3 linked regions of the Homo sapiens genome follow. The protein of the gene in region 2 interacts with the protein of the main gene of each other region in a biochemical or structural test. Each region holds a gene or a part of one and is shown on either strand. Other genes may lie near its edges. The genes, in order: PRKCE, ITGB2 and ICAM1.

Region 1 (3,751 bases), on a different chromosome or scaffold from region 2:
AAGGCTTCCATGTCACGGGAAGTCACCTGGAGCCAACCCCTCAAGTGCGTCAGAGCTCGGGAGAAGGGAGAAGGGAGAAGGCATTGGCCCTGATGATGCTATTACCAAAGGCTGGTGGCCACTTCCTGGGAAGCAGGGGCTGGGAGTGGGAAAGCAGAGGGGGTGCCATGGGGCATATCATGTGGCAGGAAGATAAGCCTTGGGGCAGACCTCATGCCTCCAAAGCTGTCTCTGGTTTTGAGGTTAGCTCAGCACCTTACCACCTCTCCCATTTGAATGGAGGCTTCTGCTTTCTCAAGCATTTCCATGCTCTAATCTCATTAGATTCTCAAAGCAGCTTGATGAGGTAGGTAGGGAAGGAGTTATGGCTCCCATGTGAAAGATGAGAAACCTGAGACTCAAAAACATTTTGTGACTTCATCAAGTCATCAAATGCTCATGTGTACATTTGTGGTCAAATCTGGACTCAAGACTCAATTCTCAGGATTGCGTTTCCTATCCCATCACACAACCCAACAATGATGATAACCATGAAGCCACCATTTAGCCAGCACTCCCTGTGGGCTGGGCACTGGGCTAATGCTTTAGAGGCATAATCTCATTTAATCTTCCCAGTAGCCCTCGATGAAGGCAGCAATACCTTTATCAGCTGTAATTTGCCTACAGCAAGACCAGGGATTGTCATTGCCAGTGCAGAGATGTTTCTGCACGGTGGGCACGAAGGCCAGAGCAGGAAGGAAGAGTGTCTGTGCTTCATTGTGAACAGAGATCAGAGTTGTTCATTGTGAGTCTCACCAATGGACTGCTTTTCATGAAAGCTGAGTGGCTATTTTGTTCATTATAAAGTGAATGTTCTGTCTTGGGTTGGGTCCTTAACTATAACATGGGCTGTCAACTGTTAGGCTCTGGCATCAACTTACAGAGGAACTGGAACTGAGTATTCTGACAATGAAGAATGAATGATGGCATCAACTTAGAGAGGAACTGGAACTAAGTATTCTGACAATGAAGAATGAACGAAGAACACGAGAAAAGCAGTTCCCTGTCGAAAGCTCTTGCTTTCATTTGTTGCTCCTTGAAGGCTGAATTCCTAGTGTTCTTGCTAAGGAAATACATTTGCAGAAAGACTGAAATCCCTACTCTTTAGATCTCTTAGAAGATAAAGGTTCTAAAGGGAAACTACCTATTACTCATCACCTTCACTTCGAGATGTTCCTCAGGCCTCCCCTGTCTTGTGTGGTCTGTGAAGCCTCCTGACCATCAGTCCCTCACTCCCTGCCTTCTGATCTGCACAGCTGTGGCCTTCCTTCTTCCTGGGATGGATCTGACTAGGACTCTCCTCCACTGAAACCCTGAGTGGGTCCACAGATCCTACAGGATCAAAGCCACATTCACTGGGTCTTTATCCCAATCTCATTCATTACTATGAGCACCAGGAAACCCTATGATCTAGCTACACTTTTTAACTGTCCTGGAAAAGACCAAGATGTTTTTGTCCCTTGGCCTTTGCTCATGTTGGAATGTCATAAGTTGTCATTTTTTAACAAACCTTTCTAAGATCCTGATTTGTGTGCCGGATCCTGGCAGTACCCAGATTAGAAACACAGACCCTGCCCTCAAAGGATCCAGGGCCCAGGGACACTGAACCTCCTTTCCTGTCCTGCCCCCGTTCCAATCCTGTTGTTTTCAGGAATACCCTCCCCACCCCTTCCGTCAAAGGAAATCCTCATTCTTTACAACTCAATTCATCCACCAGGTGCTCCAAGAAGCCTTTCCTGATCCCTGAGGATACCATCTTCTTTTATGTGCCTATTTATTCTGCTTAATTAGTTGTTTACTTATCTATCACTCCCTTTAGACCAAAAGCTTCTTTAGAATAGGGACAAGTGTCTCAGTCAGTTCTTTATCTCCACATTGCTTTGTGCCTAGCACGTGCTCAAACAATGCCCACTGAAAGAAATGAGCTCTGAATGTGCTAATACCTATCCGCCATGGGCGATGTTTAGTGGGGATTGGTACTTCTTTCCTATCTTACATGTCTCAGAACCATGAAGATCATTTTGATTGTCTATGACAGGCCATGTCTTAAATCTGAATCACATCACACTAGTTATCTCTCAGTTTGGGCAGGAATAAGGCAAACAAACACTTCATGCTGAGCAAAACATCCCAAACAACTTTCAGGAAAGGCAACCTATTGGAGTGGTTCACAGTGAACATCTCTGATATCTGTATATAATGAGGCACAGTCACTCTCCTCTTCCTGCTCCATCCTGTGTACTCACAGCATAGAACTGCCACTATGCAGGAAATAGCAAACAGTTCCTAGTTTTACTGTTAGCAAATTGTAGCTGATAAAGTGAAGTGCTCCCATGATCAATGATGCTCCTTTATTCTGATTTTATTTTTTACTTTTTTTTTTATTGAGACAGGGTCTTGCTCTGTCACCCAGGCTGGAGTGCAATGGTGCAATTATGGCTCACTATAGCCTCAACCTTCTGGGCTCAATTGATCCTTTCACCTCAGCCTCCCAAGTAGCTGGGACTACAGGTTTGCACCACTATGCCTGGCTAATTTTTGTATTTTTTATATAGACAGGGTTTCACCATGTTGCCCCGGCTGGTCTTGAACTCCTGGGCTCAAGCGATCTACCTGCCTTGGCCTCCCAAAGTGCTGGGATTACAGATGTGAGTCACTGTGCCCACCCTGTTCTGATTTTAAAGACATGAAAACAATAATAAAAGTCAACACGTTTTTCTTGGTCCTAGATTTATTGGTGGTTCTGGACTAGGATGGGAAAGAGATGTTCAGTGTGAACTTGCCCGGGTTTGGGAAATAGCCTGTTACTCTCATTTCACTCATCATCTCCCCAACACTAGGACTTCTTGACAGACATCAATCAGCAAACTTTTTTCCTTTCCTTTTCTCCCTCCTTCCTAGAATCCATCCTGGATTTCCAGAGCCTTCCCCCAGCACCACTAGATGACCCCAGTGCATGGGTTTGGACCCCTGCCTCGGTCCTGGCACCAGGAGGAGGTGAACCTTTGCACACAGGTCTTACCTCAGGAGCTATGTAGTCAGGAGTCCCACAGAACGTGGTGGTCGTCACACCATTCAGAATCCCTTCCTTGCACATCCCGAAGTCAGCCAGCTTGCAGTGACCTTCTGCATCCAGAAGGATGTTGTCCAGTTTCAAATCCCTGCAAGATAGGCCAGGACCATAATGTCAATACGTCACTCACCCCAATATAGTCTTCCTGAGTTGGAGGTATGTGCCTATCTTAGGGAAATCTCCAGCAAAAAAGTCCTGAAAGAAGCTTGTGTTTCTTGAAACCCATCTCAGTCCAGGGGCTCTCTCTCATGTTAGTCAGCCCCTAACGGCACCTCCACTTTCTTCAGCAAGAGGGAGGAACTTCTGTAACCCCAGGAATATATCAAGACTGCTGTGGTTTAATAGAGCTAAGTCAGTAGGTATATATAGAAGCCCTGCTATGCACCCACATTCATATTAATGAGATCCTGCTATGAAAGAAAGAAGCATCTACCCCTGTCCCTCATGAACTAACCATGGGGATCAGCTGGGGTTCCCAGCATGACACATAGGGACATCAACGAAACGGTTAAAACCACCTAAGAGTCAGGCACTACTTTATAGAACACTATGAGAGCTAATGTGCATCAGAGCGGGAGACCACAAACAGCTAGTGCAGGCAGTGAGGGCTTCCAGGAAACAGCGCCCCTCAAGAGAAAC
Region 2 (3,751 bases):
ACAGCTACACAACCGCACGTGTGACTGAGACGCGGGCGAGCGGAAGTCCAGGGCTGGGATGGAGAAAGGGGCCTCCTGGGGACGGCCCGCGTGGGCCTTGCTGGGAAGTGCCAGGTTCGTGTGATGCCTGTCTATGTGGCTGCTGATGAGGGCGCCCGTGGGACTGCAGGCATGGGGCCGGGTTAGGTGTGAGCCCAGGTGAGCCGCTGCCACTCTCAATGAAAGGCGTCCCCAATGTCGCTGGCGTCAACTCTAAGCACCCCAGGCGGGTTTCAGTGTCACTGCGAGGCACATGCCTGCGTCCGGGAGTCATGTCCTTCCTCTGAAACTCCAGCCTGCCTGGATGTCCTGTGTCTGGTCCTCAGCTCTCCTGCCAGGCGGGGAGAGGGGAGGTCAGGAGGATTTGGGGGCTGGAGGAGAGGGTGCCAGTGCACAGCCCGCTCGGGGCCACACGCCCCCAGACACCCTGTGTGAGATGTGAGGTGTGGCTCCTTTTGTTCTGTCCCCACCGGCAGGCCAGGCAGCAGCGTTCAACGTGACCTTCCGGCGGGCCAAGGGCTACCCCATCGACCTGTACTATCTGATGGACCTCTCCTACTCCATGCTTGATGACCTCAGGAATGTCAAGAAGCTAGGTGGCGACCTGCTCCGGGCCCTCAACGAGATCACCGAGTCCGGCCGCATTGGTGAGGCCCAGGCACTGCAGGACAAAACCCAGTCCTTTCCCAGACCCTGGCCACTCCTGCCTGTGGCCCACACAACTCCTCGCACTCAGGTCCCCAGGGTAGATCTGGGGGCCCCAGATGCAGGTCCCCCCAGGGCATCCACAGGGCTGCAGTCGGCCTGCCTCCCTGCCAGGGGCCACACCCAGTCCCTGGCTCCCCAACACTTGTAGACATTGTCCAGCCCTCCACTTCCCCTTCCATCTTCTACTTCCTTTATTTATTTCTTGGTATGTTTAAAAGACAAAATTCTGACAGTGCCAATTATTAAACATTAAAGACCACAACACATATAGACGGCACAGCGACGGCAGCACTGAAGAAACCACACAGCAAGCTCTGCTGGGCCAAGGGCTCCGCTCTACACCAGCACTGCCTTGCCACAGAGCAGGTCTCCAGCACACGTGTGTGTCAGTCACAGCGCATGTCTTCCCCGCCGGCCGTGGCTTCTCACATCGGCACTCTGCCACCTTCCCTACATGCGGGGATGCACACATGCACGATAACACACACACACACAAGCAAATGCATGCTCACACAAATGCACGCTCACACACAAATGCACGCTCATGCACGTGAATGCACGCTCACACACAAATGCATGTTCACACATGCAATGCACACTCACACACAAATGCATGCTCAAACGCAAATGCACGCTCACACATGCGAATGCACACTCACACATGAATGTATCCTCACATGCACAAATGGATGCTCACACACGCGAATGCATGCTCACACACAAAAGCACACCCAAACTCAAATGCACACACACGTGAATGCATGCTCACACACGTGAATGTATGCTCACACACATGCTCAAACACACAAATGCATGCTCTCACATGTGAATGTATGCTCACACATGAATGTATGCTCACACGCAAATGCATGCTCACACACGCGAATGTATGCTCACATGCACAAATGCACGCTCACACACGTGAATGCACGCTCACACACAAATGCATGCTCACACACATGAATGCATGCTCACACTTGCATGTGCACACACATGCACACACAGTCATACACACGTGCAAGACCACATGTGCACACAGACATGCTCACATGCACACTCATGATCACCCATGTATGTCTTCACTCACATGTATAAATCGTACATAAACACACATGCCCACATATGTACCTGGTCACCTACGTGAACTAGGTGTGTCCATACCTGAACATGCTCACATGCATACAGGAATACGTGCACACACAGTTGTGCTACGCATGTACACACTCATGTTTACACATGCAGATGGCTGCACACACAGATACACATACGCACCTGTTCACATGCCCACATGTATACCTGGTCACACACATACATGCAGGAACACACATGCATACACTTATGCTCATCCATGTACATTGCACACTCCCAGGTTCACACACACGCCCACATACGTTCACATGTGTGCTTGCACAACGCACATGCTCACACACACACTCCACATGTGCCATCTTGCTTTCTCCACCTCCCTGCTAGGAGAGAGGAAACAGGCTTGCCCTCGTGCCCCTTTGAAGCTGGCCCTCCCACCTGGGCCCAGCCTGCCACCTCCCCAGCCCCTCCATGTGCCCTGCAGGCTTCGGGTCCTTCGTGGACAAGACCGTGCTGCCGTTCGTGAACACGCACCCTGATAAGCTGCGAAACCCATGCCCCAACAAGGAGAAAGAGTGCCAGCCCCCGTTTGCCTTCAGGCACGTGCTGAAGCTGACCAACAACTCCAACCAGTTTCAGACCGAGGTCGGGAAGCAGCTGATTTCCGGAAACCTGGATGCACCCGAGGGTGGGCTGGACGCCATGATGCAGGTCGCCGCCTGCCCGGTGAGGCCGCTGCCCCTGCTTGGGTCCCCACGTTCCCCCAGTGTGGGGGGCTCTGTCAGGCGCTGTGTGGGGGCAGGGGGGTACCCTGGCCGGCAGGTCGTCTGAGGGACTCCAGCCTGGGCCTGGGGAGAGCAGCTCCTCACCCTGCTGCTGCCCATGCAGGAAAGGGCAGGAGGAAGGGAGGGTGACCACGAGGGCTCGAAAATCATGCGCTGATTTCATTGTTTGCTGTGAGTTAAATTTGTGACCCTGGGCAAACCTTATGAAGCCTAAACATTTTGCGAGCGGCCAAGGGTGGAACAGGGCCGCTAGGCAGCAGGTCCCGTGGTTCCTGGGGTGGAACCACCCTCCTCCCTCCAGGCCGGGTGGGCGCTGGCTGCCCAGTGTGTGTCGCTCTCCACGTCCCGCCCACCCAGTTTGTGACTGTCAGCCTAACAGAGCAGCCACAGTCCCTGGGCCATGTTGAGGCCACATGCACTGTCCTCCCCTCACAACCCACCTTAGCTCTCCTGCTTCCCTGCAGTCCCAGCGCAGACACACTGCTCACGAGTGTGAGGTCACAGCCTAGGACACGCACGGCCCCCACATGCGCCTGCCAGGGGCTGTCAATGGTGGACTCAAGGCCTGCTGGGCCCCTCAGGCTCGTTTTCCTCCATGTTGCACTCGTTCTGCGTGTGGCCCACACGTCTGCGAGGGTTTTTCCCCTTGGGGATGGTTTCCTGAGGGTTTGTTCCCAGCTCTGAAGTGCAGGGACCGCAGCCGTGTCTCTCTCCTTGCCTTTCCACACGTGCCTCCACTCCCTGCGCCTCACATGTGCACGGGGTGTTTGAGGGCCGTTGTCTCCTCCTGGGCGTGGCGTCTGGGGGAACACAGCTGGGTCCCTGAGACCCAGGGGAAAGGGGGACCCACACCAGCCTCCGGGCCACCCCACCAGCTCTGCATCGTCTCCTCTGCTCCAGAGGGCCGGGTCTGGGAAACTGAGGCAGGTAACCCTGCCCCCCACGCCTTCTTCTCAGGAGGAAATCGGCTGGCGCAACGTCACGCGGCTGCTGGTGTTTGCCACTGATGACGGCTTCCATTTCGCGGGCGACGGGAAGCTGGGCGCCATCCTGACCCCCAACGACGGCCGCTGTCACCTGGAGGACAACTTGTACAAGAGGAGCAACGAATTCGTAAGTCCCCACCCCAGGCA
Region 3 (3,751 bases), on a different chromosome or scaffold from region 2:
AAACATTTTTGTAGAGATGGGGTCTCACTATGTTGCTAAGGCTGGTCTCAAACTCCTGGCCTCAAGTGATCCTCCCGCCTAAGCCTCCCAAAATGCCAGGATTACAGGTGTGAGCCACTGTGTCCAACCAGATTTTAATGTGAAGTTGGTGCCCTCCTCCCTCCTAAGAAGTCAGGTGGAGACAGTCAGCCCTCCAGGAATCAGACTGGCTCCTCACTCCCTGAGACACGTAGTTTCCCCCTCTTTGGGCCTCAATTTCCCCATCTGTAAGGTGGGTGAGTATAGCCACCCCATCCCTTGCTAATACAAGTAACTCAGCACAGGATGGGTAGCAACTGGCTACCTTGCAGGTAAGAAAGAAGGGGCTTACGGGGTGGGCACTGTGGCTCACGCATGTAATCCCAGCACTTTGGGAGGCAGGGTGGGCAGATCATGAGGTCAGGAAATCGAGACCATCCTGGCTAACACAGTGATTAGCCGGGTGTGATGGCACATGCCTGTAGTCCCAGCTACTCAGGGAGGCTGAGGCAGGAGAATCGTTTGAACCTGGGAGGCAGAGGTTGCAGTGAGCCGAGATCACGCCACTGCACTCCAGCCTGGGCGACAGAGTGAGACTCCGTCTCAAAAAAAAAAAAAAAAAAAAAAGAAAAGAAAAGAAAGAAAGAAGGGGCTTATTTGGATCAGGTCCCTCAGATTCTGCTGCCTCCGAAGGTGGGAAAAAATGTCTGAGCCCAGCACTGCCTCACTCAAAGATTCCTGTCTCAGATTTGTTCTATCTTGGATGGGGGTGTGAGGACACTGGCTCCATACATTCTCCAAGGGAGATTCTGGGACCATTCCCATTTCATAGAGAGAAATGGTTACTCAGCTAGAAAGCAGTGCGATCTGGGTCTGAGTCCGGATCAGAACGCTTTGTTTTTTGAGACAGAATCTCGCTATGTCTCCCAGGCTGGAGTGCAGTGGCACAATCTTGGTTCACTGCAACCTCAGCCTCGTGGGCTTAAGGGATTTTCCTCCCTCAGCCTCCCGAGCAGCTGGGATCACAGGCGCCCACCACCATGCCAGCTAATTTTTGTATTTTTAGTAGAGACGGGATGTTGCCATGTTGGCCAGGCTGGTCTCAAACTCCTGACCTTAAGTGATTCGCCCGCCTGGGGCTCCTAAAGTGTTGGGATTACTGGCATGAACTACCGTGCTGGCCTGGATCTCAGGCTTTGTTGAGCTGTTAACCAAGCTGTCAATCTCCCACCCTCCTGGTTCCCCAAACTTACACCACCATGAAAGACCCTCTGACCCCTTCCCTCTTCCCTAGCTGGGCTGGAGCTGGGGGAGGGTGTGCTGGGGCGTCCCACTTCTCAGCTTTGGGCCACGGATAAGTCAGCTCTGGAATTCCCCCAAGTAGAAGCAGCCCTGGACTTCCCCAGGGGCAGAGAGGATGAGGAACAGAATATACATCTTGAGGGGGGTGGGGGTCCCTTAAGCCTTGTTGGGTTGGCACAGAGCCAAGTTCCCAAACCATCATGATCGAGTCCTGGGGCCAGGTGCTGCGCTGGGCCAAGATACCCTGCCAGGTGGCCGCTATAACGTTTCCCGTTTTACAGCTGAGAAACTGTAAGAGACGCAATCTAGCCAAGCAAGGCGGTGGTTCACACCTCTCATCCCAGCTACTCGGGAGGCTGAGGCAGGAGGTAAGGCTAGACCCCCGGAGTTCAAGACCGGCCTGGGCAACAAAACGAGGCCCGCCCCTCCCCTCCATCTCCAACCCCCTACCCTTTTTTAAAGCTGCAATCTATAGCCCAAGGCCACACGTGGAGGTATGCAGGGTCTGGATTCGAACCTACTGGCTGTTGCCTTTCAATCGCTGTCTCTAGCCCCTCCTTCCCATAAACAGCTACCTAAGCATGCATGACCTGACCCGGGAGCCGGTCCTCCCGGGGCTTCGGAGAACTGGCCCGACGGCAATCCCCACCCCGACTCACCTGGGAACAGAGCCCCGAGCAGGACCAGGAGTGCGGGCAGCGCGGGCCGGGGGCTGCTGGGAGCCATAGCGAGGCTGAGGTTGCAACTCTGAGTAGCAGAGGAGCTCAGCGTCGACTGGGGCGCGTGATCCTTTATAGCGCTAGCCACCTGGGGGCCAAGGGGCGGTGCTGCTTTCCCGGAAACCTCGCGCCTTCCCCTCCGGAACAAATGCTGCAGTTATTTCCGGACTGACAGGGTGCCCGGGCCGAGAGGGTCATCCTCCCTCGCTGGCCGCTTCAGCTCCGGAATTTCCAAGCTAAAGCAATCGGGCGGCGGTGGCAGGGCGATGACCCCGGGGGCTGCTCCCGGCCTCCACGCCTCCCGTTTCCCGGCCAGGCTAAGCTTGAATCACGGTCTACACCGCGCTAAGCGGTTTATTAAGTACTTTTAAATACTGCCAACTTCCCCGGAGAGTGGAGACTGTTATTGTGTCCATTTCACAAAGCGGTAAACTGAGACTCCAGGCTGCGAGGGGGTCCGAACTCAAGTCCTCCCTCTCCAGCTTACGCAGGCCTCTTTAATCGAGTGGATGAGCCCCCTGCCTGGGTGGGGGCCCAGGAATCCTCCCCGGGCTCCCTCCACTGAGGGATGCCCCTCCCCCTAGGTCACGTCCACACCTAGCTGACACGGGCATTTCTCGAGAAGCGGCCAGAGCAGAGCCAGGCACCTCCCGGCGACCGCTAACCGTGGGAGTGACGAAGCGCGGTCTCACCACGTCCGGGGAAATCGGCGTCCTCTCTCTACACCCGAGGGCACTCACCCCGGCGGCCTCCTCGCTTCCCCTTTCGGCCTTGGCCGCGGAGGCGTCTTTACAGCTCCCAGAAAAAGGAAGGAAGCTGCGTGATCCCTACGCGCCGAGCCCCTCCGCTGGCGTCCCAGGCTCCGCGGGGAAACTGAGGCAGCTAGCTTGGATCTTGACGAGGGAGGGGAGGGGGACGCTCGAAATCCCTGCCTGTCGCTGGGAAACTGAGGCAGCAGCCCCCAGGCGCAGAGGCGAGGCAGGGAGAAGGGGCGCTCGAACCCCTGCCCTACGCGCGAGGCTCCGGCAACTCGAACCCAGGCTCATGCACTAAATATGAGCGGGTGTTTGCTTGGCCACCGCCTGTGCGTGTGACCCCAAGACTCGACATCCACCACGTCGAGGCTGGGTACTCTTAAGTCTCCGAGCACCAAGCCGCGCCGCCTAAGGCTTTCCTGTTGTGGGGCGCGCGCGGCGTCGCCATGGAGATCTCCGAGGGGCCAGGGAGGTCGCGCAGCAGAAGGGGAAGCGAAGGGTCCCCGGACGCGCAGGCCCTTCCTATCGGGGAAGGGGGCTGCGAGTCACTGGCCATCCAGAGACGCATATTTCCCCCGCCTCGGTCATTCCCAAGGAATTTCCACGGGGATATTTTTTTCTTGGGGGGCTGAGGAGTTCTGAATTCCCGCCCCGGAACGGCCTGAGCAAAGTCACAGGGTGGGACGGGGGACGCCCCTGGTCCTCAGAAGGCCTGGGAAAATCCTGCGCCACGGGTTCTTCCTCGGGCGGGTTCCACTGAGCTCTTGCCCCGGCCCGAGGTGCGCGAGCTCCCCCGCGCGGCCCAAGTCCCACTTGCAGCCACAATGGTGCCGTTCTTTTCTCAACATGTGGCTCAATGTTTTTTAAGCGCCTACTGTGTGCTTGGCGTCCTTCCAGGTACTGGGGACACAGGAATGAACAGAGTCAGACAAAAATCCACCTGGGCGCGGCTCCCAC

What was found.
Region 1: of the proteins of ITGB2 (region 2) and PRKCE, one has a biochemical effect on the other in vitro, tested with the Homo sapiens proteins (one study listed by BioGRID).
Region 3: the proteins of ITGB2 (region 2) and ICAM1 form a complex in vitro, tested with the Homo sapiens proteins (4 studies listed by BioGRID).

What each region holds. Positions count from the first base shown.
Region 1 is NC_000002.12:46,144,542-46,148,292, reverse strand, and holds part of PRKCE (protein kinase C epsilon type), read right to left. Parts: intron 3,201-3,751; coding exon 3,062-3,200; intron 1-3,061.
Region 2 is NC_000021.9:44,900,300-44,904,050, reverse strand, and holds part of ITGB2 (integrin beta-2 isoform 1 precursor), read left to right. Parts: intron 1-515; coding exon 516-686; intron 687-2,317; coding exon 2,318-2,559; intron 2,560-3,575; coding exon 3,576-3,731; intron 3,732-3,751.
Region 3 is NC_000019.10:10,269,455-10,273,205, reverse strand, and holds the start of ICAM1 (intercellular adhesion molecule 1 precursor), read right to left. Parts: upstream 2,087-3,751; 5' UTR 2,047-2,086; coding exon 1,980-2,046; intron 1-1,979. UniProt on the Homo sapiens protein: ICAM proteins are ligands for the leukocyte adhesion protein LFA-1 (integrin alpha-L/beta-2).